Regions from separate parts of the Homo sapiens genome. Here all the other regions are linked to region 2. The links come from fine-mapping of genetic effects on gene expression. A gene starts in region 2. Each other region holds a variant in brackets. All regions are shown on one strand. Distances are from middle to middle. Region 1 has its middle 6.0 kb from the start of ZNF707. Region 2 holds the start of IQANK1 (IQ motif and ankyrin repeat containing 1). Region 3 overlaps IQANK1 (IQ motif and ankyrin repeat containing 1).

Evidence for each region.
Region 1: its variant is fine-mapped to the expression of IQANK1 in nucleus accumbens (GTEx, PIP above 0.99).
Region 3: its variant is fine-mapped to the expression of IQANK1 in cerebellar hemisphere (GTEx, PIP above 0.99).

The regions. Positions count from the first base shown.
Region 1 is chr8:143,673,459-143,683,458 of GRCh38, forward strand. No RefSeq gene overlaps it. Among named protein-coding and RNA genes, the nearest start is that of ZNF707, 6.0 kb to the right of the region's middle. RefSeq lists a silencer at 8,596-8,821. The variant T/C (reference allele first, on the strand shown) is at 4,136.
Region 2 is chr8:143,729,026-143,739,025 of GRCh38, forward strand. IQANK1 (IQ motif and ankyrin repeat containing 1) reads left to right here and starts at 5,114. Exons shown (of 14, transcript NM_001381874.1): 1 at 5,114-5,194; 2 at 6,825-6,913. The coding sequence starts at 6,829. FAM83H (family with sequence similarity 83 member H) reads right to left here and starts at 4,754. Exons shown (of 5, transcript NM_198488.5): 1 at 4,666-4,754; 2 at 1,111-1,572; 3 at 134-298; 4 at 1-66. The coding sequence starts at 1,557. MIR4664 (microRNA 4664) reads right to left here and starts at 4,128; the gene lies at 4,058-4,128. RefSeq lists a silencer at 3,607-3,817 and enhancers at 3,694-3,988, 8,740-9,605.
Region 3 is chr8:143,765,609-143,775,608 of GRCh38, forward strand. IQANK1 (IQ motif and ankyrin repeat containing 1) reads left to right here. Exons shown (of 14, transcript NM_001381874.1): 4 at 5,880-6,010; 5 at 6,193-6,357; 6 at 6,444-6,635; 7 at 6,749-6,874. Among named protein-coding and RNA genes, the nearest start is that of IQANK1, 36 kb to the left of the region's middle. RefSeq lists an enhancer at 4,503-5,176. The variant G/T (reference allele first, on the strand shown) is at 4,787.

The DNA.
Region 1 (10,000 bases), 56 kb before region 2:
ACTAAAAATACAAAAAAAAATTAGCCAGGTGTGGTGGTGCACACCTGAAATCCCAGCTACTTGGGAGACCGAGGTGGGAGAATCCCTTAAACCCGGGAGGCAGAGGTTGCAGTGAGCCGAGATCACGCCACTGCACTCCAGCCTGGGCAACAGAGCAAGACTGTCTCAAAAAAATAAGTAAATAAAGTAAAATAAAAAGTAAAAATGGATCAAAGATCTGGATGCAAGACCTGAAACAGTAAACTCTTGTTAGAAACTGGGAGCAGAAGCTTTTGACACACACTGGGTTTGGCAATGATTCCTTGGACACCAAAGGTACAGGCAACAACAACAAACAGCCAAATGGCTTCGTGAAAATTAAAGCCTTTTGTTCATCAAAGGACACTCCTAAAAGAGTGAAAAGCTGCCCCTTCCCCACAGAACGGGAGAATATCTGCAAATCACGTGTCCGATGAGGGACTCATATCCAAAATATCGAAGGAACTCCTTGTGGAGGCCAAAGCCGCTCCAGCCTGGATGGTGACTATTGTGTGGGCTTTCGACTAACCCGTCCAGGGAAGGCCTCCGACGTTTCCAGGTGATCTGTTGTTCCTTGTGTAAGGGCAGGCACTTGCTATAAACCCTGCCGCAGGGTCAGACGGCCCTGATGCCGCCCATTGTCCTGCACTTCCCTCCCAACCCTCCCCGTGGTACACAAGCCCTGGGCGGGGGCAATGGTGGGATCCAGTATCTCCTCTTGCCGCTGCCAAGACAGACATGGCTTCTTTTTCTAAGTCCCTGTTAAGTGTTTCTTTCTAAGAAACTGGGTTTGTTAGCCTTTTTCTTTGACCTCTCAGCTTCCTCGGACTTTGGAGACAGGTTTACATAGACCTACTTACCATGGAACACTCCAGAAAACGACTCCCCAAAAACAACCTGATTCAAAAATAGGCAAAGGACTAATTAGACCTCTCTCCCAAGAATGGCCCAATAGGCTGGGCGTGGTAGCTCACACCTCTAATCCTAGCACTTTGGGAGGCCAAGGTGGGCGGATCACCTGAGGTTGGGAGTTCGAGACCAGCCTGACCAACATGGATAAACCCTTGTCTCTACTAAAAATACGAAATTAGCGGGGCGTGGTGGTGGGTGCCTGTAATCCCAGCTACTCGGGAGGCTGAGGCAGGAGAATTGCTTGAACCCAGGAGGTGGAAGTTGTAGTGAGCTGAGATCACGCCACTGTACTCCAGCCTGGGCGACAAAGTGAGACTCCGTCTCAAAAAAAAAAAAAAAAAAGTAAAGAAAAGAATGGCCCAATAAGCACATGAGAGGATGTTCACACCACTCATTCTTAGAGAACTGCAAATCAAAGCCACAATGAGATACCACCTCACACCCATTAGGATGGCAAACAATTAAAATAACAAAACAAACACAAAACAGAAACAACTTAAAACAGAAAAATAACAGGTATTGGCAAGGCTGTGGAGAAGCTAGAACCCTGTGTGCTGCTGTTTGGAATGTAAAATAGTACATAGTACACCTCCTAAGGAGAGCAGCATGGCGGGTCCTCGGCGTGTGGTGCCTGGAGTGACGTCGGGTCCTCGGCGTGTGGTGCCTGGAGTGACCGGCGGGTCCTCGGCGTGTGGTGCCTGGAGTGACCTTGTGACCTGGCCATTCCACTTCTGGGCATATTCCCAGAGCTGTGAAAGCAGGCACTCACGCAGACGTTTGCACCCCTACGTTCACAGCAGCACCATTCCCAGCGGCTCAAGAGTCCGTCAATGGACAAATGGATACACCGAATGTGGTATGGACACACAGCAGAATATTAGCCTTAAAGAAGAAGTCAATTCTGACACACGCTTCAAGAGGGATGAACCTTGAGGACATTGTGCTGAGTGAGATAATCAGTCACAAGAGGACCAATACTGTGTGTGATTCCATTTCTACGAGGTATCCACAGTAGCCAGATTCATAGAAACAAAGTAGAACGGTGGTTTCTAGGGCTGCAGAAGAGGGGAATGGAGAATACTAGAGGATCATAGAAGTTAAAGACTTAAAACAAACTTTAACAATTAGGACAGGATACCAAGGTGCAAATGCCTGGTTAAAATGGATCAAATATTCCATCTACACATTAAACAAAAGCAACTGTTACGCTTGTGCACATGGCAGGCCAGAGGCCCAGATTGTCCCCCTCCACTAAGGTGGTCGCCAGTCGACCAGGCGTGGCTGCATAGTAGCTCTTTTCCAGGATTCTACAGCCTGCAGTAACAAGACGTGCCAAGCTCTCTCTGCTATATCCCGAAATCCAGCACCCTGTGGGTCAGCCCGCAAGGGCCATCCAGCTTCTGTCTCCCAACACTAAGTTCACTTCGTGTCTCTCACGACAGGGAGGAAACAGCATTCCTTGGAGACCTGAAGGGATGCGATGAGCTTAAGAATTTTCGAGAGCTTATCAATCAGTCAGCCCTTGTTCATCCCTGTGCGGATGTGTGGTGGTATTGTGGTGGACCTTTACTGGGCACTCTGCTGAATAACTGGAATGGCACTTGTGCTTTAGTCCGTTTGGCTATCCCTTTCACCCTGGCATTTCATCAACCAGAGGGAGAAAAAATAAGACGTCATAAAGCGAGAGAAGCCCCTTATGGGTCTTTCAACTCTCACGTCTATTTGGATGCAGTTGGGGCCCCTCAAGGAACACCAGATCAATTAAAGCTTGAAATCAAATAGCTATAGGATTTACGTCAATATTTTAGTAGGTGACAGTTAATAAAAGTGTAGATTAGATAAACTACATCTATTACAACCAACAGCAACAAGCTTTTCATGAGTTAAAAGAAAAACTCCTGTTGGCCCCAGCCCTGAGTCTACCTGACGTGACAAAACCTTTTACACTCTATGTGTCAGAAAGAGAAAAAATGGCATTTGGAGTTTTAACCTAGACTGTGGGGCCCTGGCTAAGGGCAGTGGCCTATCTCTCTAAACAACTATAGGGGGTTTCCAAAGCCTGGCCCCCGTGTCTAAGGGCCCCGGCAGCAACGGCCCTGTTAGCACAAGAAGCAGATAAACTAACTCTTGGACAAAACCTGAATATAAAGGCCCCCCATGCTGTGGTAACTTTGATGAATCCCAAAGGACATCATTGGCTAACAAATGCTAGATTAACCAAGTACCAAAGCTTGCTGTGTGAAAATCCCCACATAACCACTGCAGTTTGCAACACCCTAAACCCCAGCACCTTGCTCCCGGTATCGGGGAGCCCAGTTGAACATAACTGTGTAGAGGTGTTGGACTCAGTTTATTCTAGCAGGCGCAACCTCCGAGACCATCCTTGAACATCAGTAGACTGTGAGCAGTACGTGGATAGCAGCAGCTTCGCCAACCCCTGCAAAGTGACTCTGAGGAAGACGACAAGCCCTGCTCCAGTCACGCCCAGAAGCTGACTGGTCCATGCACGGCCGAAGCATGAGGAAACTCATCGCAGGACTCGTTTTCCTTAAAATTTGGACTTGTACAGTAAGGACTTCAACTCACCCTCCTCAGACTGAGGACTGTTCCTAGTGTATACATCAAGTCACTGAGGGAGGACAAAATGTTGCTACAGTCCCATTATTTTACGGTTATTATAAGTGTACTGGAACTCTAAAAAGAACTTGTTTGTATAATGTTATTCTATACAAGGTATGTGCCCAGGAAATGACCAACCTGATGTGTGTTATGACCCATCTGAGCCTCCCATGACCACAGTTTTTCAAATAAGATTAAGAATTAAAGACTGGTGGGGGCTCATAAACAATATGAGTAAAGTGTTAGCCAAAAAAAACAAACAAAAAGAGGTGCCCAAACAAGTCACCTTGAAGTGTGATGCCTGTGCTGTCATTAATACTAATAAGTTAGGAATAGGATGTGGTTCTCTTCATTAGGAAAGAGGCTGTATGGCAGAAAATAAGTACATTTATCATGAGTTAGGACTGTGTGGAAATGAATGTAGTTACTGGTCTTGTGTCATTTAGGCTACTTGGATAAAAAATGAAAAAAATTCTGTCCACCTTCAGAAAAGGAAAAGTGGCCCTTCCTATACCAGTGGTCAGTGTAACCCCTTAGAACTAGTAATAACCAACCCCCTTAATCCTCGCTGGAAAAAAAGGAAATG[T/C]GTAACCCTAGAATTTTTTTTTTTTTTTGAGATGGAGTCTCGGTCTGTCACCCAGGCTGGAGTGCAGTGGAGCGATCTCGGCTCACTGCGAGCTCTGCCTCCCGGGTTCACGCCATTCTCCTGCCTCAGCCTCCTGAGTAGCTGGGACTACAGGTGCCCGCCACCACACCCGGCTAATTTTTTGTATTTTTAGTAGAGATGGGGTTTCACCGTGTTAGCCAGGATGGTCTCGATCTCCTGACCTCGTGATCCGCCCGCCTCTGCCTCCCAAAGTGCTGGGATTACAGGCGTGAGCTACCGTGCCCGGCCATAACCCTAGAAATTCATGGGGCTGGACTGGATCTTCAAGTAAATATTGTGGTTTGAGGAGAAGTTTATAAACGCTCTCCTGAGCCAGTATTTCAAACCTTCTATGATGAACTGAATGTGCCAGCACCAGAAATTCCAGGAAAAATAAGAAATTTGTTTGCAATTAGCTGACCATGTAGCCCAGTCTCTCAATGTCACTTCATGCTATGTGTGTGGAGGAACTATAATAAAAGACCAATGGCCACGGGAAGCCCAAGAATTAGTACCTACAGACCCAGTTCCTGACGAATTCCTGGCTCAGAAAAATCACCCTGATAACTTCCGGGTCCTAAAAGCCTCAATCACTAGACAATACTGTATAGCAAGAGTAAGGGGCCGGGCGCGGTGGCTCACGCCTGTAATCCCAGCACTTTGGGAGGCCGAGGCGGGCGGATCACAAGGTCAGGAGATGGAGACCATCCTGGCTAACACGGTGAAACCCCGTCTCTACTAAAAATATAAAAAATTAGCCAGGCGTGGTGGCGGGCGCCTGTAGTCCCAGCTGCTCGGGAGGCTGAGGCAGGAGAATGGCGTGAACCCGGGAGGCAGAGCTTGTAGTGAGCTGAGATCACGCCACTGCACTCCAGCCTGGGTGACAGAGCAAGACTCCGTCTCAAAAAAAAAAAAAAAAAAAAAAGAGTAAGGAAGGACTTCACCCTTCCTGTAGGACGACTCAGCTGCCTTAGGCAAAAACTGTATAATGGTACTACAAAAACAGCCACCTAGTGGAGTTCAAACCATACTAAGAAAAATCCATTTAGTAAATTCCCAAAGTTGCAAACCGTGTGGACCCATCCGGAGTCCCACCGAGACTGGACAGCCCCCACTGGATTATACTGAATGTGTGGGCATAGGCCTTACACCAAATTACCCGACCAGTGGGCAGGCAGTTGTGTGATTGGCACTATTAAACCATCTTTCTTCCTACTGCCTATAAAGACAGGTGAACTCCTGGGCTTCCCTATGTTTCCCGCGAAAAGAGAAGCATAGCTATAAAAAAATAAGAAAGATAATAAATGGCCCCCTGAGAGAATGATGGAATATTATAGGCCTGCTACTTGGGCACAAGATGGCTTGTGGGGATACCGGACCCCCATCTACATGCTCAACCAAATCATACGGTTACAAGCTGTCTTAGAAATAATCACTAATAGGACCGGCAGAGCCTTGACTATTCTGGCCCGGCAAGAAACTCAGATGAGAAATGCTATCTATCAAAATAAATTGACTCTCGACTACTTGCTAGCAGCTGAAGGAGAAGTCTGTGGGAAATTGAACCTTACCAATTGCTGCCTGCACATACATGATCGGGGCAAGTAGTTGAAGATACAGTTAAAGACATGACGAAACTGGCACATGTGCCTGTACAAGCGTGGCACGGATTTGATCCTGAGGCCATGTTTGAAAATGGTTCCCAGCGCTAAGAGGATTTAAAACTCTTATAATAAAAATTACAGTAGTAATAAGAACCTGCTTACTGATCCGTTGTTTACTACCTGTACTCCTTCAAATGGTAAAAGGTTTCATCACTACTCTAGTTCACCAGAATGCTTCAGCACAGCCGAGCGCGGTGGCTCACGCCTGTAATCCCAGCTTTTTGGGAGGCTGAGGCAGGCGGATCATGAGGTCAGGAGATCGAGACCATCCTGGCTAACGCGGTGAAACCCCGTCTCTACTAAAAATACAAAAAAAAAAAATTAGCTGGGCATGGTGGCGGGCGCCTGTAGTCCCAGGTACTCAGGAGGCTGAGGCAGGAGAATGGCGTGAACCCGGGAGGCGGAGCTTGCAGTGAGCCGAGATCGCGCCCCTGCACTCCAGCCTGGGCGACAGAGCAAGACTCCGTCTCAAAAAAAAAAAAAAAAAAAAAAAAAAAAAGAATGCTTCAGCACAAGTGTACTTCATGAATCACTATCGCTCTGTCATGCAGGAAGACATAGCTAGTGAGGAAGAAGGTGAGAACTCCCACTAATAAAATGAGTGAGAGTCTCAAAGAGGGGGAATAAGGGAGGAGACTGCCCCTCATATCCTCTTATGCCCAATTTCTGCCTCCAAAGAAAGAAGAAGTAAAAGCTAAAAGGCAGAAATGAAATCTACAGGTAGACAGCCCGGCGCCGCACCCTGGGCCTGGTAGTTAAAGACTGACCCCTGACCTAACCGGTTGTGTTACCTATAGATTCCAGACATTGTAAAAATCCCTGTCCCGTTCTGTTCCGTTCTGATTACCAGTGCATGCAGCCCCCAGTCACGTACCCCCTGCTTGCTCAATTGATCACGACCCTCTCACGCGGACCCCCTTAGAGTTGTGAGCTCTTAAAAGGGACAGGAATTGCTCACTCAGGGAGCTCGGCTCTTGAGACAGGAGTCTTGCCAATGCTCTCGGCCAAATAAACTCCTTCCTTCTTTGACTTGGTGTCTGAGAGTTTTGTCTGCATCTTGTCCTGCTACAAGCTCACGGCAACCTCTGCCTCCTGGGTTCAAGCAATTCTTCTGCCTCAGCCTCCTGAGTAGCTGGGACTATAGGCACGCACCACCACGCCCGGCTATTTTTTGTATTTTTAGTAGAGATGGAGTTTCACCCTGTTGGCCAGACTGGCCTCGAACTCCTGACCTATGATCTGCCCGCCTCGGCCTCCCAAAGTGCTGGGATTATAGGCATGAGCCACCGCACCTGGCCCATACAGCTTTTATAATATTATAGATTTTTTTCTTCCCAATGTTTTAAGAGATGGGGTCTTGGCCGGGCACAGTGGCTCACGTCTGTAATCCCAGCACTTTGGGAGACCAAGGCAGGCAGATCAACTGAGGTCAGGGGTTCGAGACCAGCTTAGCCAACATGGTGAAACCCTGTCTCTACAAAACATACAAAAAATTAGCTGGGCATGGTGGCGGGCCCCTGTAGTCCCAGCTACTCGGGAGGCTGAGGCTGGAGAATCACTTGAACCCAGGAGGTGGAGCTTGCAGTGAGCCGAGATTGCACCACTGCACTCCAGCCTGAGCAACAGAGTCAGACTCCATCCGAAAAAAAAAAACAGTTTTGAAAGTGTTGAGCACCCGATTCTATCGCTGATCGGGGCGCCACTTGTAACCTGCACGGACCTAAGGGGACTGAACAAAGGGGGCGAACTCGGGAATAAAGACAAGAGACAAAAGAGTATATTTGGAAGAGGGCGTCAGGGGGCACCTTGCCTCTAGTGGACAAGGGCCCTGAGCTTTACACAGCCCTCCGTATCTATTAGGCAAAAGAGATAGTGAGAAAAGGGGGGTGATTGTCGGGTAATTGTCAGTCGGCCTTGAACAGGCTGCATCCTTTGGACAATAGAGTATTTCTCAATAGATAACTTCAAGGAGCCCAGAGCCAGGGAGCGAGGCCCTCAGCAAACCTTTTGGTGGCAGGGCAGTGTGAGTTCACCCACATCCTGCATTCATGGTAAACAGTTTGCTGTTTGATCATAGAGCCTCCAGCGGAATGCTGAGTTGGTCACGTCCCACGGGCCTTCGGCTCCCTGCATGAAGCTATGACACAGGTGCCCTCCCTACAGTCTTTCCCAGGCCTGCTGGGTCTCAAGTAGCCATGTGGCACCCAGGGAGGCTGTCAAGGCTGTCTGAGGCCCGAAGTTACATCCTAGGTTAGAGCTCAGGACAGAAGACAGAGCTGTGAAGGCAATGCCTGGAGGATCCAACCTCTCCCAGAATAGCCAGGAGGCAAAACTGGCGAAAGGGGACCACATGGGGCTGGATTCTGCTTGGGAGCTGCTGGTCGAGGCACTGAGAACTTGTCCCCAGACCTCACCATGGCCACCTGTCCAGCCCCGATTCCAGAGGCTCAAAACCAAAAACATAAGTAACAGCAAATCAACAAGTATTAAATTATATGTAACTAACAATTTTGAAGACATTCCTATTGACATAGGATGTTGTTCTCAGTCATTCTGCAAGCCAGGGACCTCCGGCCAGCGACGCCCCGCCAGGGCCTCGCTTGACACACTACCTGCTGCAGGAGACAGCCCGTCAACTCCCCCGAGTTCCCGAATGCTTGTCCACGGCCAAGAAGAATGAGGAGGCTCTGACAATCGAAGAGTGAGCAAGGCGGGGAATTTCACTGGGTGACGGGGCAGCTTTCAGTGGAGAGGGGACATGGCGTGGTCCCCCTACATGAAGGCAGGAAAGTTCCCCATGTTATGGACTCAGAATGGGGAGGGCGTGCTGATTGGTTTGTGAGTAATGCAAAAAAGGTTAAAGCAAAGGCACCACTGAAAGGTGGGCATGACAGTGTAGAAAGCCAATTAGAAAAGGGTAGGTATATGTAAAATAGGTGAAGGGTGGGACCAATCAGAGGAAAGTGCGCCAGACAGGAAGACAGGCTCTCAATCCGGTCTGAGGATTCGACTTGCAGCTTGGCTTTCAGGCTTTAAGCTGTTTTCAGCGTCGAGGTGGAGGTTTCACTGGGGACCTGCCCCCATTTGGCTGGGCATTTGGCTGCCTGCCTCCTGTCGCTATCACTCCTTTACTAGTGAGGACTAAACTGATCTTTTTCTCTCTTGCTCAAGTTCTTATCTAAAGGGCCTGGGGAGTCTGCCCTACAAACCATAAAATGTCATCAGATAGGTTTTATTTAACCCTATATAATTGGCTTAGTTTCCAACCTGACTCTAGCATAACGTCACATGACAGATAAAGGAAATCAAAATATTTTACTCTTTTTTTTTTTTTTTTTTTGAGACGGAGTCTCACTCTGTCGCCCAGGCTGGAATGGAGTGGCGCGATCTCGGCTCACTGCAAGCTCCGCCTCTGGGTTTCACACCGTTCTCCTGCCTCAGCCTCCCGAGTAGCTGGGACTACAGGCGCCCGCCACCATGCCCGGCTAATTTGTTGTATTTTTAGTAGAGACGGGTTTCACCATGTTAGCCAGGATGGTCTCGATCTCCTGACCTCGTGATCCACCCGCCTCGGCCTCCCAAAGTGCTGAGATTACAGGCGGGAGCCACCGTGCCCGGCCTATTTTACTTTTAAATATATTTCTTGGCTATACTTTGGATGCTTTCAGGTCATAGGTGGATTCAAAGATTTTCTGATTGGCAATTGGTTGAATAAGTTAAGTGATTACCTAAGACCTGGAATCTATAGAAAGGCGTGTCTAGGTTTGAACAGTTGGCCACCCTTGTGTGGGTGGAGTATTACATAGGTGCCTAGGCAAGAGACTGAAGGCACAAACTGTTTCAGTATAATAAAGAAAATAGTTAGAATAAGAATAGTCATAATACAAATTAGATATAGAGATGACCATGAACAATTATCAATCATTATTATAAACATTATTAATCATTAGCTTTTACCATTACTCTTTGTTGCATTACTAATATAACCTAGGAATAACCGGCGGATATAGGGTCGGGTGCTGAAGGGACATGGTGAGAAGTGACCTAGAAGGCAAGAGGTGAGCCTTCTGTCACTCCCACATCAGGGCTGCTTGAGGGCTCCTTGGTCAAGCCCTAACGCCAGTGTCTGGGAAGTCACCCG
Region 2 (10,000 bases):
GCCCTTGAAGGACTTCCCAGTGCGGCAGTAGTAGGTGGGGCCCGCCACAGTCCGTACGCGCAGGAACTGGGGAGGGAGGGGAGTCAGATCTCTCCCACGGGTCCTCCCCAATCTCCCACTCCCGGGAACTCACATCCACGTGCTGCAGGTTGACACGGCACTTGTCGGCCATGTCCAGGAAGTGCTGCGCGTTCATCTCATCCAGCAGGATGTAGACTGGGACCCGACGGGCCGCGGCCTCCAGCACTTCGCTGAGCAGGTCCACATCAGTGAACATGTCCATCACCACGGCCACCACCTGCAGGGGCGGGTCAGGACGGAGAGGAGAGGCCCCTGCTGTCCCCACACCATTGTCCAGCCTCCCCTCCACACCCGGGAGGTGTCTGGATCACCCACGACCACTGTGAAACAAGCTAGTCCATCCTAGGGAGTTGGCGCCACATCTGGGAAGATGGGCAGGAAGAAGGGACCAAACAGAAGAGGTGTGGAACGGCTGGCCATAAGGGGGAAACCGAGGCAGGTGCAGGGCAGAGAACCCTGGATGAGGGTGGGCCAGGTTGGGGCACGGCAAGGGCCCCTCAATCCCCTCCACCCTACAGACGGCTGAGCTGCCCCCATTCCAGGGCAGCTGTCAGGGCCAAGTGCCAGGCTCCAGTTCTGCCCTGGGACGGGGTTGTTGCCCTGGGCAGGGGAGAAAGTCACAAGCCTTTAGCGTCTGGACCTCATGCCTCAGTCGCTATGGTTTAACAGCACCTTCCGCCGTCTGCTAGCTGTTTGGTGATGGTTAGAAGCCCTCAGCTGGCCAAGGGCCACCGGGCAGGATGAGAGGTAATTATCTGAACAATGAACCCAGGCTGGTGGGGTGCCCACCCATCCCCAGAGCCCCCGAGTTTCTGGGCACTGGCCATGACCACAGGCAAGCAGACCTGTGCAGAGCCTGCAGCCCCTGATGACCGAGACCTGGCAGCCCTGAAGATCTTTGCCAGGGACCCCCACTCCAGCTGGAGCTCAGGCTCACCCCTCAAGCTGATCATGCTCATGCATCTCCTCCACCCCCGTGCCTCTAGCCCAGGCCCCTCCCCCACTACCCTCAAGCCCAAGATGGCGCACCTGCTGGGCGGAACGGATCATCCTGCGGGCCTCATCCTTGATACTGGGGCTGTCGGGGGGCGGTGGCTGCACCAAGGTGGTCACCTCGGTGCCCTGGAAGCCGAAGGTCAGAGGCCAGCCCAAATCAAGCTCAGGCACGGCCTGGTCTGAGTTCACTGGCCAGTATGTACCCGAGGAGCCATCCATGTCCACGTCGAGAAGGCTGCCTTCAGGTGGCTCTCGGGTAACATACTGCGGAGGCCGAAGGTGTCGGCTCACATGTTCCAGCTCTTCAGGGCACAGGAAGTCTGGTGCCCCCTCGGTAGCGAGGAAGCGGCTGTAGGCCTCCGAGCCACCCTCGGCCAGTGCATCCACCGCCAGGCGGTAGTACTCTTTGTAGTGAGGCGGCAGGTACCCGGGTGCCAGTGGGTTGTCCCCCTGCGAGGAGCTCTGAGAGCGACGGGCCATGTTGGGGCCAGGGGCCTGGAGGGGCAGGGAGACACATGACTAGGGGTGGGGGCACTGGGACCACTCCTACCCTCGAGCATGGACACACTGTGGAAAGGGCCGTCAGTGACTTGGGTAGGCTGGAGTTTAGCCCATGCCCAGGAGGCCTTCCAGGGCACCAGCCGAACCAGGCTCACAGAGAGCAACCCAGACCCTAGGATGCCCCTAGCTGAGGGGACACTGGCAGAGGGCTGGGGCACAGGTATCCCAGCCCTGTCTCTCCTTTCTCTGGGAGGCTGAGGCAGGAGGACTGCTTGAAGCCAGGAGTTTGAAACCAGCCTGGGCAACACAGCAAGACCCCATCTCTACAAAAAATTTTAAACATTAGGCAGGCATGGTGGCGTGCACACATAGTCCCAGGCACTTGGGAAGCTGAGACAGAAGGATTGTTTGAGCCCAGGAGTTGGAGGCTGCTGTGAATTATGATTGTGACACTGCACTCCTGCCTGGGTGACAGAGTGAGACCACATCACTACAAAAAATAAAAATAAAACGAACCCCCCCCCCCAAATATTTCATGACTGTTGGCTTAAAGACAAACAATCCAGGCTGCATTCATCATTATAATATTCACTTTTTTCTTATTTTAAGACATTCACGGACCCCTGGCACTGTGCCTACTGGACAAGCTGGTGCCGCCCATGCTGCCCATGTGTCCGTCTCTGACTGCCTGGGAGACTGTGGGTAGGTCACTGCACCTCTCTGGCCTACCTCTACTGCACAACACAGCTGAGGGTCCACATGACACCACGCCTAGCCCAAGGTGAGCGCAGCAAACAGGGCTGTGACTACCCTCCTCCTGGAATGGCAACCTTAAGCCCCACACATAGTCCCGGGCCACACCTCCTCCCCATCCTCAGGGTTTCACAATTGGGCTCCCACAGCCCATTCTATGACCGCCCAGTCCTGGAACACTGATCCCTAGACTCCGTCCCTGTCTCCCAGCACCCCCTCCTTCCCTTGGCCTACCTTTGACCTCTTTCTTGTCACTGTCCCTCTCAGATAAAACCTCCCTGGGCCACAGCCCCTTGGTGCCCACAGGGCCCTGCAGGGCCTGCACTCCACATCGCCCAAATCTGGCTCTCCACTTGCTCAGAGTCCTGTCCCCACCAGCCCCCATCCAGGGCAGCAGGGACCTTTCCAGGTCCTGGGCTCGCCACCACCATCCATGCTTGGCTGCCCCACAGCCCACTCTGTTCTCCAAAGGGTCCCTGCGGGGGCCTGGCCTCTCCAGAAAGGTGTCAGATGGGGAGCGCCCAGGGCCCACGCACACAGGGTCACTGAGCTACCTGGGTACCTCTCCCTGGAAGGAGAGCCCTAGGGACTGCTCAGTCCATCCCACTGCTCCTCGGGTTGGGGAGGGAGGCAGGACACCTGTCCCCGCCTAGCACACAGGTTCCTGAATGTTGGCCCTGGCTAGGAAGGTGCCCAGAGGAGCGTGCCCCTGGGCGCTGACAGGATGGATGCCGGCCAGCTGGACTACATGGGTGCTAGCCGGAGCCACTTGGCTGAGAATGTTGGGGTCAGGAGGCAGCCGTCCTGCCTGGTGCCCCTGGGGGTGACATGGAGTTGAGACATGGGAAATACCTGGTGCCACTCAACAGCCCTAGATGCCAACCGGCTTGGGAGAAGCTGTCCCAACATTTCTTTGTTGGGGCACCGTCCTCATGGTTGACATATGGGGCTGGTTAGGGCACACCGCTCTGGTTGTGCCAGGGGCAGATCGAGGCCAACCACATGGGGGTGAGGTGTAGGCCTGTCTGGCTGGGCCGAGGAGCCCACTCACCATTGCCAGCCTGTCTGTAGGGGCGGTGTCTGACCATACAGGGCAGGGGGAACAACCCTGCTGATGTTGTTTGAGGGTACTTCCCGACACTGGGGGGACACTCTAGAAAGGACCCCCACTGTCCCTTTGGATTTCAGTGTCCAGGCTCCAGGCTGTGTGTAATGGGGGCAGGGACCATCCAGACAGTGGAAGCCCCCGTGGCCAGGAGCCCTCCCAGCAGACATGCCTCGTCCTCACAGGGTGATGCCCAGACCTCCAACTGCTTCATTCCTCACGTCGTCTCCTTTCATGGGTACGTGTCTCCTGGGCTATGGACGGGGCTGCAGCCACTCCCGAGCCCAAGATGGAGCACCCCAGTGGCCTGCATGCCCACACATTTGCCTACCAAACGTCTGCCCAAGGGAGGGAGGGCGCGGAACCCACCCATGGGCAATGACTCAGCACGAATCCACTCTTCTGCTTGCTGACCCCTGACCTCTGACTCGAAGTCAGGGCCCTCAGCTGGCCTTCAAGGACCCCATCCTCTCCACCCTGGCAGGAAGTGGGGTTCCTGAGTATCTGGAAGGAGGACCCCATGGAAGGATCTGGAGTTCCTACACAAAGTGGGGTGAACCTGTGCCAAGTTCCGATGGGCGCAGGAGGGCGCGGAGGCTCTAGGCGGCGGAAAGGTGGGGTGCGGAGGACGGGGCTCACAGACCGGAAGTCGCTCAGTGATAACTTGCGGAGTGGGCACCCCAGCCCCCAACGGGGTCAGTGCACCCTACGAGCTCGCGGCTGCGGCCGCTGGGTGCCCTATCCGCCCACCCCAGCCCAGGAACGTGGGCGCGAGGGGCAGCACTCCCATCACTCGCCCTGCTCGCCACGCGGGGATCCAGGCCGCACCCTGGCCACCCCAGTCCACGGCGGCCCGGGCGGATGTCCCCAGGGAAGGGTCCAGGCCGTGCCCAGCACCCAGACTCCAGCTAGGCCGCGAGGGCGGGAGCGAGTCGGGACGGCCGGGCAGGCTCGACCCGGATCCCGGGCCCCTTCCCCCTCGGCTCTTTTCGGGCCGGCGTCGTGCGGGGGCGCTCGCGTCCATATCCGCACAGCGGCGCCCCCTGTCCGAGCAGCCCCGCCACCCCGGCCCCGCGCACGCGGCCGCGCTCCACTCCCACCGCCCCTCTCTGGGTCGCGCGGCCCCGGCCCAGGTGTGGGCGCAAGGGTAGCCCAAGTGGGACCGCGCCAAGGGGCGCCCGCCCCCCGCCTCGCCCCGCCCCGCTCGGGCCGGGGGAGGGGGGCCCTACCTGGCCAGGTGCGCGGGGTCTCGGCACAGGGGCAGCAGGAGCCGACCGCCGCCCAGCGGCCTCGCGGTCCGGTCGGTCCGGCAGCCACTCCCTGCCGCGGCCCGCCCGGCCTGATTCACGCGCCCGCCCCCGCCCCGCCCGTCGCTCCTGCCTCCTGCCTGCCCGGGCAGCACCTGGGGGCGGGGCAGCCCCACCCGCGGCGCGCCCGCATTCCTGCGCCCCGCGCCCGCCGCCAGCCCCAGCCCGCGCCCCCGGCCCGCGCCCCGACCCGCCCGTGCCCTGCGGCCGCGCGCCCGGAGACCCCGGCCCAGCGCCGCCGGAGACCGTGAGGCCCGCACTTCAAAGACCCCGACCCCCGGGAGCCCAACTGTTGACCCAAGGCTCAAAGTTCCCAGCCTGACCCCTGACCCTCGCCCCGGAAGTCGGGGTGACTCGGAAGTTCCGGCTCAGTCGCTAGGAAACGAGCGAGCCCGACGCCAGGGGCGGAGCTCTGGCCTCCTCGCCGAGTTGGGGGAGGCAGGTGCGACAGGTGAGGACGGTGGGGCGGCGTCGAGCCCCGGGCGGGGCCGGGTCTGGGAGCCCCGAGAGCACAGGGGATCCCCTCACCACACACCGGTCTCCCACCGCACCAGCGCCCCACACGTAGACGAGGACCCCGCCCACACAGAGGACCCCCAGACCCCAACCCCCACCACACACACTGATGCCCACAAGTACCTGGGGTCCCCCATCTTTCTCCCTCACCCCCTCACACCGATGCCCACACTTGTAGGGGACTCTGCCGCAGTGACCCCCCCATGCACATGCGGACCCCGAATGACCTGTGCCTCATGTACACCAACCCCCAAGCACAGGAGACTCCTCAGGAAGACAGAAGCCACAAGCACACCGAGTCCTGCCCATGCCAGTCACCCACGAACACGCTGACATCCGCACACCTAGGGAACCCCACCTGCATATGAGATTTCTCAGACACCAACCCCACACACAAACAGGGGATGCCATATTCACACTGACTCTGAGAGCACAGGGGACCTCCCTCACATACGGAACCCTGTGTACACACAGGGACTCTGCAAAAACCAAGCCCCAACGGACAAGGGACCCAGTGTGCACACCAAGCCTCATACCAGACGCCCCCCCATGTACACAGCAACCCCCACACACCACCCCGAGCTGCCCCTGGGTGCTCCAGTCCCCCAGGTCCCCCTCAGGCCCTCACTTAGGGCCCCTCCCCCTCTTAGGCCCTGCCCTACACTGGATCATCTGTCCAAACCACCACCCCTCGCCCCTGCCACTCCCACCCCAAGGACTGGCCCTGCCTCAACCCTTTCTGATGGTCATCAGTCGCCTTTCTCTTTGTTCCTCTTGCCATGTGATCCTATTTTCTGTTTTCAGGGTCAGTCCCAGTTTCATTTGTTCTTTCCCCAAACACTCAGTGCCACCCCACTGGTACCAGCATGCTGGAAACATGGGTGGGGGGTCAGACCAGTGCCCAGGCAACTGTGCTGCAGCGGGTGAGGGGCATGGGGCACCGGGGAGGACCCGGACAGGCTGGGGCAGGCAGGAGGAGCCTCCCAGGGAAATGAACTTGGGGGTCAGCTGTGTGGACTAGGGAGAGGGGTGTTGCTCCAGGGCCTGACACCACCATCTGCCAGAGCCGGGACCACATAAGGTCTGAGGGTGTGGAGGGGTGAGTGCCTTGGGTGGGCTGGGGAGCAGGCTCAGGGGTGGGCTGGCTTCCCAGGGCAGTGGAGAGGCATGGAGGCTTCAGCAGAGAGGGCCATGCTCATGATTACGGTGAGAACAAAGACCGGCCCACTGGCAACCCAGCAGCTTGGGGCAGGGAGAAGAGTGCTAGACTCCAGATCCTGCGCCCGGCAGGATGGGCTGAGCCTGGGGCGGAGGGGCAGGCAAGCCACGGCCAGGGGGACGGGAGGTGGCCAAGTGCTCTTGCCAGGCATCCCGGCTCAAGCTTCTGGGCACACACCCGGGGCGGGCAGGCAGACAGGACACCAGCTGGGAAGCCTCAGGGGAGCCCATGTTCCTGCTGTCATCCACTCAGGCGCCCATGGTGTGCCCTGTTCCCCACTGCCACTGCCCCTGCCCTCTGCCACTCTGAGCACCCTCTCCCTGGTCCTTCCCTACCCACCCCCCAGGAGAATGGACAGTAAGAAGGGGAGACCCAAAGCTGCAGCTGGGAAGTGGCAGACGCTCCACCCTGGGCCCAAGACAAGAGCTGCTGCTGGTAAGTGCACCCTCTGACCTCCAGAGCACTGTCACCCAGACACTGACCTGTGAGACCTTCTATGTAGCCACCGAGAGACACCCCCTCTGAGGAGAGCCCTTCTTCCAAGAGTGGCTTTTAGGGGACCTCTGAGTTGGGATTAGGTGTGATTGACTGAGGGTTCAGAGCCCATTCATTCATCTCAGACCTTGAGCCTGAATCTATTTTTTTTTTTTTTTTTGAGACGGAGTCTCGCTCTTGTCACCCAGTCGAGTGCAATGGCGCAATCCCTCCTCACTGCAACCTCCGCCTCCTGGGTCCAAGTGAGTCTTGTGCTTCAGCCTCCCGAGTAGCTGGGATTATGGACGTGCGCCACCACGCCCTGCTGATTTTTGTATTTTTGTTTTAGTAGAGACGGGGTTTCGCCACATTGACCAGGCTGGTCTTGAATTCCTGACCTCAGGTGATCCGCCCGCCTCGGCCTCTCAAAGTGCTGGGATTACAGGCTTGAGCCACATGCCCGGCCAAGCCTGAATCTTATACCCCTGGGGTTGGGGTGGGGGCCTAGGGGTAGCACTCAGAGAAGCCCAGCTTTGGAACACATGGAGGTGGGAAGGGGGCAGGAGCCAGTGGGAGGCGCCTAGATGGCCAAAAATGGGTTTTGAAACAGGAGGGTTTGAGTCCAAGTTGGGGATTCTCAGTCTAAGCATGTGTTCTCTGACTCTCTGCTCCATCTGGGCCATCCTGTGCTGCCCTCTGCCTGCGGCTTTGCTCCCAGTCACCTTCTCCATAGTCACTTCCAGGTTGGATGGTGACAGCTCACCTGGGCTGGGTTTTCCTGTGGGTCAGGAAGGAGACTTCCCCCAGTACCCTCCCCCACCCCAGCCCCGCCTTCACTGTTGTCACTCCCTTGCTCCAGCTCCCATTTATTCTCTATGCTGGCTGTGAACACATTCCAGGTTGCAAATCTGGGGTCCTTCAGCACCCAGGCCTGCACTGGGGTCTGTGCTTGCTAAGAGAGCACCCCATCCTGCTCCCCAGACTGCCCCTCTGCTTAGAGTGGGCCTGGCCTAACACCCCTGGTTGCCAGAGAGCTCCCAGATTCACAGGAGCAGGTGGGATGATGGTGACCGCTCCTCCACGCCAGGCTGGGGTTAGATCCTAGTTCCCCAAAATAGCCCCAGCTGCGTCTGAGGCCAGCCGCCCTCCTGGAATGAGGATAATGGGCACAGGTGCCGCATGCTGCTTCCGCAATCTCTAGCCCTGAGTACACTGCACTCCAATAAACGGGGGGCAGGGCAGGTGGACCAGCAAGGCAGCCAGGAAACTGGGTTGCAGGGGTGGGGGCTGTGCTCTTCAGTTCTGCTACCTACTGACTGCACACCCAGGCCTTCGCCCTGCACCGCAGCCCATACACTGCCCTGGACGGCTCTGGCCCAGCATGCCTGGGTCTGCTGCAGGGACACCTCTGTCCCTGAACAAGTATCTGCCCTCAGTGCCCATTTCCACCAAGCATTGGGCCAGCCTGGGCAGGCTTGCTGTCCCTTGGTCTTGCAGTGCCCTGTGTGGCGGGCACCGGCTTCACTTGGCAGATGTGAAGATGGGCCCACAGATACCCTGCATCCAGCCTGGCTTCCTGGGCCTCCACAGGCATCCCTAGGTTGCTGCAGTGGCCACCGCACCAACACAACAGTCCGGGACCCCTCCCGCCACCCCATCCAGGCCTTACCTGGCCTTGGGTCTGCAGTGCTTCGAAGCCCTCACTCCGGAGCTGCTCCAGGGCCACGGCCAGCTGCAGCCCCTCCACGTGTACCCAGGCCTGCTCCTCCTGTAGCTGCTGCAGCCACAGCTGCTCCTCCTGTAGCTGCTGCAGCCATAGCTGCTCCTCCCGCCACAGCTGCATCTGCAGCTGGACCTGCCGCCACCGGTCCTCCAGCAGCAGCTGCTCCTGGGCCAGGCACAGCTGGACCTCATGGAGCCTCAGCAGTTCGGGGCCCAGGGCCGGCATGGGGTCCCCTGCTCCACAGCCTTCCATGTGCCCAGCAAGGACCAGCACCAGCTCAGACCCCGGAGCAGTGGCCGGCACCGGTCTCGAGGCTGCCTGTGGCTGCTCTGGCCTGGCCACCCTGGGGTGTCCCTGAGGTGCTGGCTCGATGCTGGTCACGTGCCCTGTAGGGGCCACCCCCGCTTCACCCTGAGGGCCCCCTGGGGTGGGGGGCGGGGGCTCGACCTCAGGGCCCTGCTGCCCAGCTGCCGGCTGGGCCCTGCCTGCCCTCCTGGCCCGGGGTTTGCGAACTCGACTTCGTTTCCCAGACATGGCCCTGGATCCAGCGCCTCCTTCACCAGGTGTCTGCTCCCCAGGGGCCCTGGCTCATGGACCAGCCGGCCTCAGGCCAGCTCAGAGGGCGTCCCTGGAGGCTACAGTGGCCGTGTGCTCCCACGCCAGGCTTGGCCCCCTGTTCCAGGTCCTGCCCCTTGCTGGAGCCCGCAGCACCGCAGCTCGGGACTCTGGCTCTGCCTATGGGCCTCACTGACCCCACTCGGTGGGGCCAGGCCACGCCAGGGAGTTTATAGGGACTCCACGGCGCGGTGGCTCGCCTGGGCTGAGAGGCTGACTAACGCGCTGACACGGCGGCACGGGGCTTTACAGGCCACGGGCCCTGCCGGCGAGACTGGGAGGGAGGCTGAGAAGCTGGAGGAGGCAGCGCAGCAGCCAGAGTGCCTGCTGTGCGCAGCAACGGGCGTGCCTGGTCCTGCCCTGGGCGGCACCAATGCCCCCCGCCCCCGCCCCATCCCGGCTCCCCCGGTCCCACAGCTGGTCGAGGGAAACTCAAACTGCAGGCCACAGGGCCAGGAGCTGCATCCTGGTCGCACTGACCCTCAGGGCCCAGACCCTCCCTGGCCACAGACAACCTGAGCCCAGCTGGCCATGGGAACCCGCAGCCCATGCACTCTGGAGGGCTCCAGGGCAGCTAGCACGCCCACAGGAGCCCCGCTGGGGTTTGGTGGAGACAAAGGACCCAGGGACCCGGTGGGAGCTAGGGCAGGGTTCGGGCCACTGCACTGCGGCTGGCTGGAGAGACTGGGCCCTCAAAGCCCTGCGTGGCA
Region 3 (10,000 bases), 37 kb after region 2:
AGTTCTTTAACAGGTTTATGTGTTGCAAATTTCTTTTCCAAATTTATATGGTTTTTCACTTTTGGTATGTTATTTTTAGATAAGCAGAAGTTTTACATTTTGACATGCTTTAGTCGTCTTTTCCTTTGTGGTATATAAAGTACATATTTTAAAAGTCATCCTTTGTTTTATGTAGCTGTGGTTCATGTTCATGGCTGTTTAGGTGTCTGTTATGTGCATATAACATTACTGATTCATTCTACTGCTGGTAGACATTTGGATTATTTGTAGATTTTGGTTTTAAAAATAACACTAGCATGGATTTTCTTGCACGTGTCTCCTGGTGCACACATCCATGCATTTTTGGGGGCACACACCTGGGAGAAAGGTTGCTAAGGCACAGGTGTGCCAAGCCGTCTGCTGACGTGGGTGTTCTGATTTCCCTCCCCACAGCAGTGTAGGGACCGGTGTTCTGCAAGCCTCCCGTGGGTAGTAGCAGCCTCTCTCTAGCCGGTGTGCGTGGTATTAGGTGAGGTTTTAGATTGGATTTCCCTGGTGACTAATGAGATTCATCACATTTCCATATATTTATTGGCCACCTGGGTAGGCTCTTGTGTGCATTCAGGTATGTTACTAGTTCTCTATTGTGCTGCTGCCTTTTTTCTTACGGCTTTGTAGTATTTCCCAATATATTCGGAATACAAACCTTTTGTCAGTTACATGGATTGCAAATACCTTCTCCCACTCACTGGCATTTTTACTTTCAATGGTGTCTTCTCGTGAATAGAACTAACTGATTTTTGCTGGGCATGGTGGCTCATGCCTGTAATCTCAGCACTTTGGGAGGCTGAGGTGGGTGGATCACCTGAGGTCAGGAGTTCAAGACCAGCCTGGCCAACATGGTGAAACCCCATCTCTACTAAAAATACAAAAATTAGCCAGGCGTGGTGGTGGGCACTTGTAATCCCAGCTACCTGGGAGGCTGAGGCAGGAGAATCGCTTGAACCCGGGAGGTGGAGGTTGCAGTGAGCCAGGATCGAGTCACTGCACTCCAGCCTACGTGACGGTGCGAGATTCTGTCTCACGAAAAAAAGAAAAAAAAAAGAACGTACTGATTTTAACATGTTTTCTTTTGGGTATTTTTTGTGGTGGTCTCTGAAATAAATCTTTCCAACTCCAAGTTCCTGAAGCTGTTCTCCCATGTGATCTTCAACGAGCTTTATGGTTTTGCCTTCCGGTGCGATCACCAGTCCATCTGGAATTGCCTGTTGTGAATGGGGTAAAGTAGCAGACACCTGTCCTCCCTCTCCTCATACGGGTTTCTGATTGGACCCCACCACTGACTGAAATCTCTATTCTTTCCCACGGCTCTGTAGGCCCCCTGGCCAGGAAGTGCCCATATGCCCGGGGGCTGTTTCTGAACCCACGGCCACTGGTCTCCGTGTGAGAACATCGCACTGTCTTCACCGACATGAGGTCCTAATATCAAGAAAAGCAAGTCCTCTCACCGAATTCTTCTTTGAATTATTTGCCATTCTTGGCTCTTTCGCAGATACATTCCAGAATCACGTGGTCAATTTTCACACAAACAAAGCAAAACAGCCCTGCTGGGTGAACTTCATTAGGATTTCGTTGAACCTATAGCTCAATGTGCGGAGAGTATCACCTCTACAGCAGTGTCCACTCAATCTATGAATATGGTATATCTCTCCTTTTGTTTTCTGTTTTGTCTTAGTGCTCTTCAGAAATGTTTTATGAGTGTGTGTGTGTGTGTTTGCTCATGTGTATAGAGATCTTGTGTGTATCTTTGTCAGATTTAATCCTAGTATTTGACAATTGTTTACTTTTTTATTTTCAAGTAGTTTTGGTCTTGCAGAAAAGTAACAGAATTAGTATGGGGATTTTCCATAGATGTGTAACTTACCCAGCTTCCTCTAAGATTAACATCTTACATAGAGACAGTACAAGGAACAGAACCAGGAAATCAACACTAGCATAAAACCATTAACTAAAGACCTTCTCAAATTTCACCAGTTTTTCCAGGATGCCATATTGCATTTATTTGCTGTTTCTGCATAGTTACCTGTAGTCTGTAACTGTTCCTATAGTCATGACTTTTCTTTCACGACCTTGACACTTTTGAAGAATGAATCTGAGTGTGGTGGTGTATACCTGTGGTCTTGGCTACTCAGGAGGCTGAGGCAGGAGAATGGCGTGAACCCGGGAGGCGGAGCTTGCAGTGAGCCAAGATGGAGCCACTGCACTCCAGCCTGGACGATGGAGCGAGACCTTTTTTTTTTTTTTTTTTTTTTGTGAGACAGAGTCTCGCTCTGTCGCCCAGGCTGGAGTGCAGTGGCTCAATCTTGGCTCACTGCAAGCTCCTCCTCCCGGGTTCAAGTGATTCTTCCTGCCTCAGCCTCCCCTGTAGCTGGATTACAGGCGCCGCCACCACACCCAGCTAATTTTTGTACTTTTAGTAGAGACGGGGTTTCACCATGTCGGCCAGGTTGGTCTCAAACTCCTGACATCAGGTGACCCACCTGCCTCGGACTCCCAAAGTGCTGGGGTTACAGGTGTGAGCCACTGTGTCCGGCTGAGGCTCTGTTTCTAAAAATTAAAAATAAAATAAAGCAGAAATGATGTTGTGTTTTTGACGTACATCATGTCATGGGGCTTACGGTGCGGGAACGTCTCACCGCTTGTGACGTTGCCCTCGATCACTTAGTAGGAGGGTTTCCGCGAATGTCTCACTGCTTGTGACGTTGCCCTCGATCACTTAGTGGGGGGGTTTCCGCCAGGTTTCTCCTTTGTAAATGTACTATGTTTTCCTTTCGTGGTTGATACTTATCTTGGAAGAGATATATTGAGACAAGAGAAATTCTGCTTCTCTTCAAACCCCTGCCCACTGAAACGTGCGCCGGCGGACATACGTCGGTGGCTGTCAGCTGCAGCCGCTGCACTTCTTGTGTGCCCGATGGGAATCTGCTCCTTCCCTGCCCCCTCCTACACCCATTGATGGGATTCTACTTTCCCTCCACTCCCTCTAGTGTGTTTTTAATCCTTTATTTGTATCACTGTGGACTCACTGACGTTTATTTTGTGGGCTTAATCCAAGTATATGATAGTTTTTTGATGCTAAATATATTAAATTTTTCTGTTGCTGCTTGTGTACAGAAATACACTTTGTGAGTATGAGGTTATATTCAGAACCTTCCCAAGATTGCTTATTGATGATAATCATTTGTGATGAGTTCTTCTGGATTTTTATGTGCATCATCTGCAAATGAAGATGACTTTGACTGTTTGCTGTCACTCTTTGGAGCTGGGCCCCTGTTACCATCAGGGTTATTTTATTTCGTGAAGGTTGTGATTCTGACCCAAATAGGGCTACCAGATGAAACAGGGCTCCCAAAATCCGGGACATCCATTTAAATTTGAATTTCTCATATATACATATTCTATATGTATAATATAAAAATATATATATTTTACTGAGACAGGGTCTCGCTCTGTTGTCCAGGCTGGAGTGCAGTGGCATGATCATGGCTCACTGCAGCATTGACCTGGGCTCAAGCCATCTTCCCATCTCAGCCTCCTGAGTAACCGGGACTACAGATGCACGCCACTGCACCCAGCTAATTTTTAGTTATTTGTAGAGACAGGGGTCTCCCTACGTGGCCCAGGCTGGTCTTGAACTTCTGGGCTCAAGTGGTCCTCCCACCTTAGCCTCCCAAAGTGTTGGGATTACAGATGTGAGCCATTGCACTTGGCCCTATATATATTTTTTTAAAGAGAGACAGGGTCTCACCACGTTGTCCAGGCTGGCCTCAAACTCCTGGGCTCAAGCAATCCTCCCATCTCAGCCTCCCAATGTGCTGGGATTACAAGGCCACTGCGCTTGGCCTAAATTTGAATTTCAGATAAACAGGAATAATTTACTTAGTGTATGTCCCCCAAATTGCATCCTGTTTATTAGCTAAATCTGGCAACCCTAAACCCAAGCCATACCCAGTGCTCTAAATGCAGGTCTGTCCCTTGGCCCGTCCTCTGCTGAGCAGCTGACCCTTTGCTCTGGGCCAGGCCAGGCCCACCTGCCTGGTGTTGGGACCACCCTGCTGCACTGTTTTGGAGACCTCGTTCTTCATTTCCTCAGTAGCTTTGAATGCCGTCAGACACTTGTTTAAAAAACACTTTGATTTCGTCTGTCTTCTCTCTTGCTGTCACTGGGAAGGCTGCACCTCCTGCCCTGCCATCTGTGCTGCAGAACCAAATACTCTTCCTGGCCTACTGTTTTCCCTGCAGAATTTTGTGGACACTGCTTCATTTTCTTCTAACATTTAGTGTTTCTGTAAAAAGCCTTCGGAGGTGGCCGTGGTGCACAGGCGTGTGCCTGTGGTCCCAGCTACTCGGAGGCTGAGGTGGGAGGATTGCCGGAACCGGGGAAGTGGAAGCAGCAGTGAGCAGAGATTGTGCCACTGTGCTGCATCCTGGGTGACAGAGTGAGACCCTGTCTCAAAAAGAAAAAAGCCTCAGGAGAGCCGGACTTTCCTGTCATAGGTGCTTTGCTCTTTCTCCTCGGGTGCTTGAAAAACATTTTGTTTTGAGGCTTAACTTCAGCGAATTGTGTCTGATGCCTGTTGTTCATGCCCTTTGTTTTCTGGGATTTTTCCCCCTTTTGTCTTAAGATTCATTTCAGGATTTCCTGGGTTTTATCTTGAGTGTTTGCTCTTTGCTTGCATTGTCAGTCTCTGCATCCTAGACGCACGTTATTCTTATGACTGTATTATCTCTGTCCACTGCCACTCGG[G/T]GTCCCGCCCTCCTGACGGCGCCTCTCCCTTTATTCTCCTTCGCTGTGATTTTCCCACATGGGCTCAGCTCTCCACCCTGCCCCCGCTGGCTGCTCCGGTCCGTGCCCTGGGCCTGCAGGGTCTTCCGCGTCTCCCAGTCTCGCCTCATCCCGCCATTCTGCCCATGCTCCCTGGGAGCTTGGTTGTGGGAATCATAGTACTTGGCTCCCCAGCGGGCGCACCTGTGGAGACCCAGCTGCGCTGCCTGCTTGCTTCTGGCCTGCGCTCCCGTGGCTCCCTGCTGGGTACCCGCGTGGCCCGACAGCCTCGCCTGGCCACCCGTGCCCTGGCACAAGTCACACCCACGGGGCGCACGCTGAGCGTTCACTGTGGCGGAAGCGCCACAAGCGCCCCATTGCTGGACTCTTAGAAAGCTGCAGGTATCGTTCCACGTTAGAGCAAGGGGCTCAGGCCGGGGAGGCTGAGTGGTGCCCGGACTTCCCCAGGCCAGTCAGGGCAGCGCTGAGCCCGACGCCCTCTCCTCCGCCCCCTCCTCACTGCGAGGCGGCTCCAGGCTCGGGCTCAGCGCTCCGTTGCAGCCGCGGTGGGGCGAGGGCGAGGCCGAGCCGGAGAGGACAGAGCTCCCTCTGGGGCCCTGGGCTCCGCGCCCTCTTCTGAGTCCAGCGGGGCTGTGATGAGCCCTCCCAGGCCTGGGGCCCCCCCGCTCAGTCCAGCCTTCGCTCGCTGGGGCCTGGATGCAGGAGGGGCCTTCGGCTTTCAGGGAAGGGTGTCCCGCGGGGGACAGCACCCCTTCCTCACCGTTCCTCGGGGCTCCCGAGCTGCGGGCTCGGCGGGGCTCGCAGGATCCCCGGCGGCGTGGGGCGGGGGAGGTTCCCGCAGACCTGGGTCCTCTCCGCGTCCCGGGCTCTCGCGCAGCCTCCTCGTGCGGCCTCTGCGGGCGGGAACCCCGGCTCGGCCGCGCTGGGGGCTTTGAGAGCCGTTTGGGTCCTTCTGTCGGGGCGGGGGCGGGGGCGGGGCCGGCTCCACTCCCAGGGGCGCAGCAGGCGTGGCTGGAGGCGAGAACGCGCCCCCGTGAGCCTCTCCCCACCCCAGGGCCGGCCGAGGACCGAGCGGCCAGAGCGATCCAGGGCGCCTTCCGGCAGCTCCGGGCCAGGAGGGAGCTCGCCCGCCGCCGGGAGGAGCGCCGGGAGTACCTGGAGCAGATGGAGACGCCGCAGAAGGAGGTGAGGACGGGCAGCCGCAACAGCCGGGGGCCAGGCAGGAGGCAGGGGGAGGAAATGGCGAAGCAGGGTGCGTGGTGGGGGTGAGGCTCAGATCGGGCTCCGACCTCAGAGGCGTGGACCGTGGCCTCGGGGCTCGGGGCGGTGGCGCGGAGTGGGCGGTGACTTCGGCGGGCGCCTCCCAGGCCTACCTGGCTCCGGTGCGCCGGGAGCAGGAGGCCGCGCGGCGGCTGCGCGAGCAGGAGGAGGCGGCGCAGCGGGAGCGGCGGGAGGAGCTGCAGCGTCGCCGCCGCCTGCTGGACGCCGCCTTCGACGGGGACGTGGGCGAGATCCGGGCGGTGCTGAAGGAGGTCAGCGGGGGCGGGAGGAGGACGAGGGCGGGGGGTGGGGTGGGAGTGGGAGGAGCGGGGAGCGGTGACCGCGGCGAGCTGCGCAGGTGGAGCAGCTGCTGACGCGCGAGGGCGTGGGCCACGACGAGGCAGGCGAGGCGCGGCGGCTGCAGCGACGCGTGGCTCTGGCGGAGTGCGAGGACAGCTACGGGAACACGCCGCTGTCGGAGGCGGCCGCAGGCGGGCAGCCCCTGGCCATCCAGCTGCGGGCCGAGCTCGGCGCCAGCCCCAACAGCAAGGTGGGCGCCGTGGGCCGCGGGCCGCCGCGCTGAGGGGCGCGGTCCAGGGCCCTCAGGGGCCTCCTTCCCCCAGGGGCAAGGCCTGGATCTTGCTCGGGGGGCCCGTCTTGCAGGGCGCTTTCGGTCCGACGCCGCTGTACCGTGCAGCCTTTGGGGGCCACCTGGCAGCTGTGGAGGTGCTCCTGAAGCTCGGAGCAGACCCCCGGGTGTACGCAGAGGACGGGAGCACCCCTGAGCGGGTGTGGACCCCAGAGGTGTGGGCCCCGGGAGGTGTGAGCCCCGGGAGGTGTGGGCCTCGGGAGGTGTGAGCCCCGGGAGGTGTGGGTACCGGGAGGTGTGAGTCTGGCAGGTGCACACCCAGGCAGGGAAGGCTCACCCGACCGGCTGTCTCTGAAAGCTGTCAGAAGCCTGAGTGGCCTGCTAGAGCGGTTTCCTAGCCCCGCCGTGCGCCATTCCCTTCCTGGAAGTCCTGACTTTAAAACCTCGTCAGTCTGCAGTGGAAGTGGCAGCGACTCCCATTTTGTGAATGCCTTTGGTGTCGGGTTTTGTGTCATTTCCTTCCGTGCTTTGCCTGAGGAAGTGGTGTTACTGATGGAGAAACTGAGGCTGGCGATTCCAGGGTTGGCAGAGCTCACGGCGCTGGGGGCAGCACGGGGCCCACCCATCGGTCCCCTCACTGTCAGTACGTCGGTTTTCCAGAGAACTTGAGCCACACAGCCCAGCCACAGAGCTCCTTTCTAGAGCCTTTGAGCTATGTTAGAAAGGACAGTCTGGCTGTCTGGCCGGGCGTGATGGCTCACACCTGTAATCTCAGCACTTTTGGGAGACTGAGGCGGGTGGATCACTTGAGCTCAGGAGTTTGAGACCATCCTGGCCAACATGGTGAAACACCATCTCTACTGAAGATACAAAAATTAGCTGGGCGTCGTGGCGCACGCCTGTAGTCCCAGCTACTTGGGAGGCTGAGGCAGGAGAATCGTTTGAACCTGGGAGGCAGAGGTTGCAGCGAGCCAAGATGGCGCCACTGCACTCCAGCCTGGGCAACAGAGTGAGACTCAAAAAAAAAAAAAAAACAAAAAAAACACAAAAAAAACAGAGTCTGCCCTGGGCCAGGCTGGAGACACAATGCCTGGACTTGTCCCAGGCCCAGGAGTGGGGTGGGGTGAGGCTGACTCCGCCTGTTGGAGCAGTGGCTGGAAAACCAGACCACGAACCTCGCCTACCTTAGTTTCATTTAAATCAACTTAATTTGAACCCCAGTCCCTCTCCCATCTCAGTCATTATGTTCCCCCACCCCACCCCTAACCTCACCCCACATCCCACACAAATCTGGAGGTGCTGCCTGGAGTCTGGGTTCTGCCTCTGGCCCACGGCAGACACCTGGGAGATGCATCCACTGGACTGCTGCCAGAGTCTTTGCCCAGCTAGGGACCCACCCCCAGACTCTCCTCCTGTAGGTGCTGCCTGGGAGCCTGTCCTGCCCCTCTCTTCTTTCTCCTTGTCTGCAAAGGGTCCTTCTTCCTGGGCTGGAGGGGAGGGGCAGGGCCGAGGCGGTGGGCTTAGGGAGGGGCTGAGGATACGGTGAGGCGTCCAGAGGTGCAAGTGGGAGTCAGGGGTGCTGGGGTGTCCAGCAGACCTGCTGCCTGGGGCATGGTGGCCCGGAGAGCTGAGAAGGGCAGCAGCTGGGGGTGCTGGGGGAGCCCTTGGGTGCCAGGGGACTGTGTGTTCACTCCATGGTGCTGGAGCATTGGCCATCCACAGGCAAAGGGGTTAGTGTGGACCTGAAGCACACACCTATAAAAAATGAACTCAAAGTGGATTATAGATTTAAATGTAAAGGGTAAAATTACAAAACTTTTAGAACACATAGGAGAAAAATCTTTGGGGCCTAGGACTTGGAGGGATTCTTGGACATGACACAAAAAGCACAATCCAAAAAAAAAAAAAAACCACATTGATAAACAGAACTTCATCAGAATGTAAAATGTTTGCTTTGTAAAAGACCTGTCAAGAAGAAAAGAAGCCACAGGCAGGAGCAAACGTTTGTGAACCACGCATCTGGCAAGGCACGTGTACCTAGAACATAGAAAAAACTCACATCGCAAACAACAATGAAACATACAATCTAGGTATAAAATGAGCAAAGACATGAAGAGAAATTTCACCAAAGAGGATCTAATGATGGCAGATGAACACCCGAGGAGGTGTTGCACACCACCTCACACCTCCCAGGACAGCCCAGGTCAAACTAGAGCTGGAGCCGAACGAGGGCAGGGATGTGGGGAAGCTGGCCCTGCCACACCTTGCTGGGGGGACGCAGCACCAGTACAGCCGCTCTTGCAAATAGGCAGGCGGTTTCTTAAAAAGTGAACACATTTACCATGTAACACAGCATCAGACTCCTAGACATTTGCTCCAGTAAAAGGAAAACTAGGTCCACACAAAAATGTGTACACAGATGTTCACAGCAGCTTTATTTACAATAGCCAAAAAGTGGAAACGACTCAGATGTCCTCCAGCAGGCGAGTGGCTCCACTAGCTTGGTGCATTCCTGCCACGAAACACGCTTGGCAATAAAACGGTGTGCACACATGATCCATGCAACAACTAGCAACGTGGAGAAACCGGAAGGGAGCTTCACAGAGTGGGGGAGAAGGTCACACACACTCACATGACAACACTGTGGAGACGGAGGACAGATCGGAGGGCTGCAGGGGTTACGGATGGGAGTGGGGGCAGGAAAAGCGGGGAGAGATGGGGCCGACTGGGCAGGAGTAGCACAAGAGACCCTTGAGGTGATGAGACAGTCTTGTATCTTGATTACGATGGTCGTAACGCAAAACTGCACATGTGAGAAAATTGTAATGATACACACACACACACGAGTAGATGTGAAATAGTTGAAATCCACTGTGAGCCCTGTAGATTGTACTATGTCAGTATCCTAGTTTGTATGTTGTACCGTAATTATGTAAGAAGTCATCATTGGGGGAGCTTGTTAAGGGTATATGGGAACTCTACTATTTTTGTAACTTCATGTAAATCAAAATAAAAATTCAAAATAAAAATTTAGTTAAATTGCCAGGCATGCTACACACACACACACACACAGACACACACACACACACACACGAAAAATGACCCAGAGTGAAGAGAAAAATCAATGAAAACAGACTCAGGGATGACACAGGAGATGGAATTAGTAGACAAGAACATTAAAAGTTATTATAGCTGAGGCCGGGCGGGGTGGCTCACACCTGTCATCCCAGCACTGTGGGAGGCCGAGGCGGGCAGATCACAAGGTCAGGAGTTTGAGACCAGCCTGGCCAACATGGTGAAACCCCATCTCTACTAAAAATACAAAA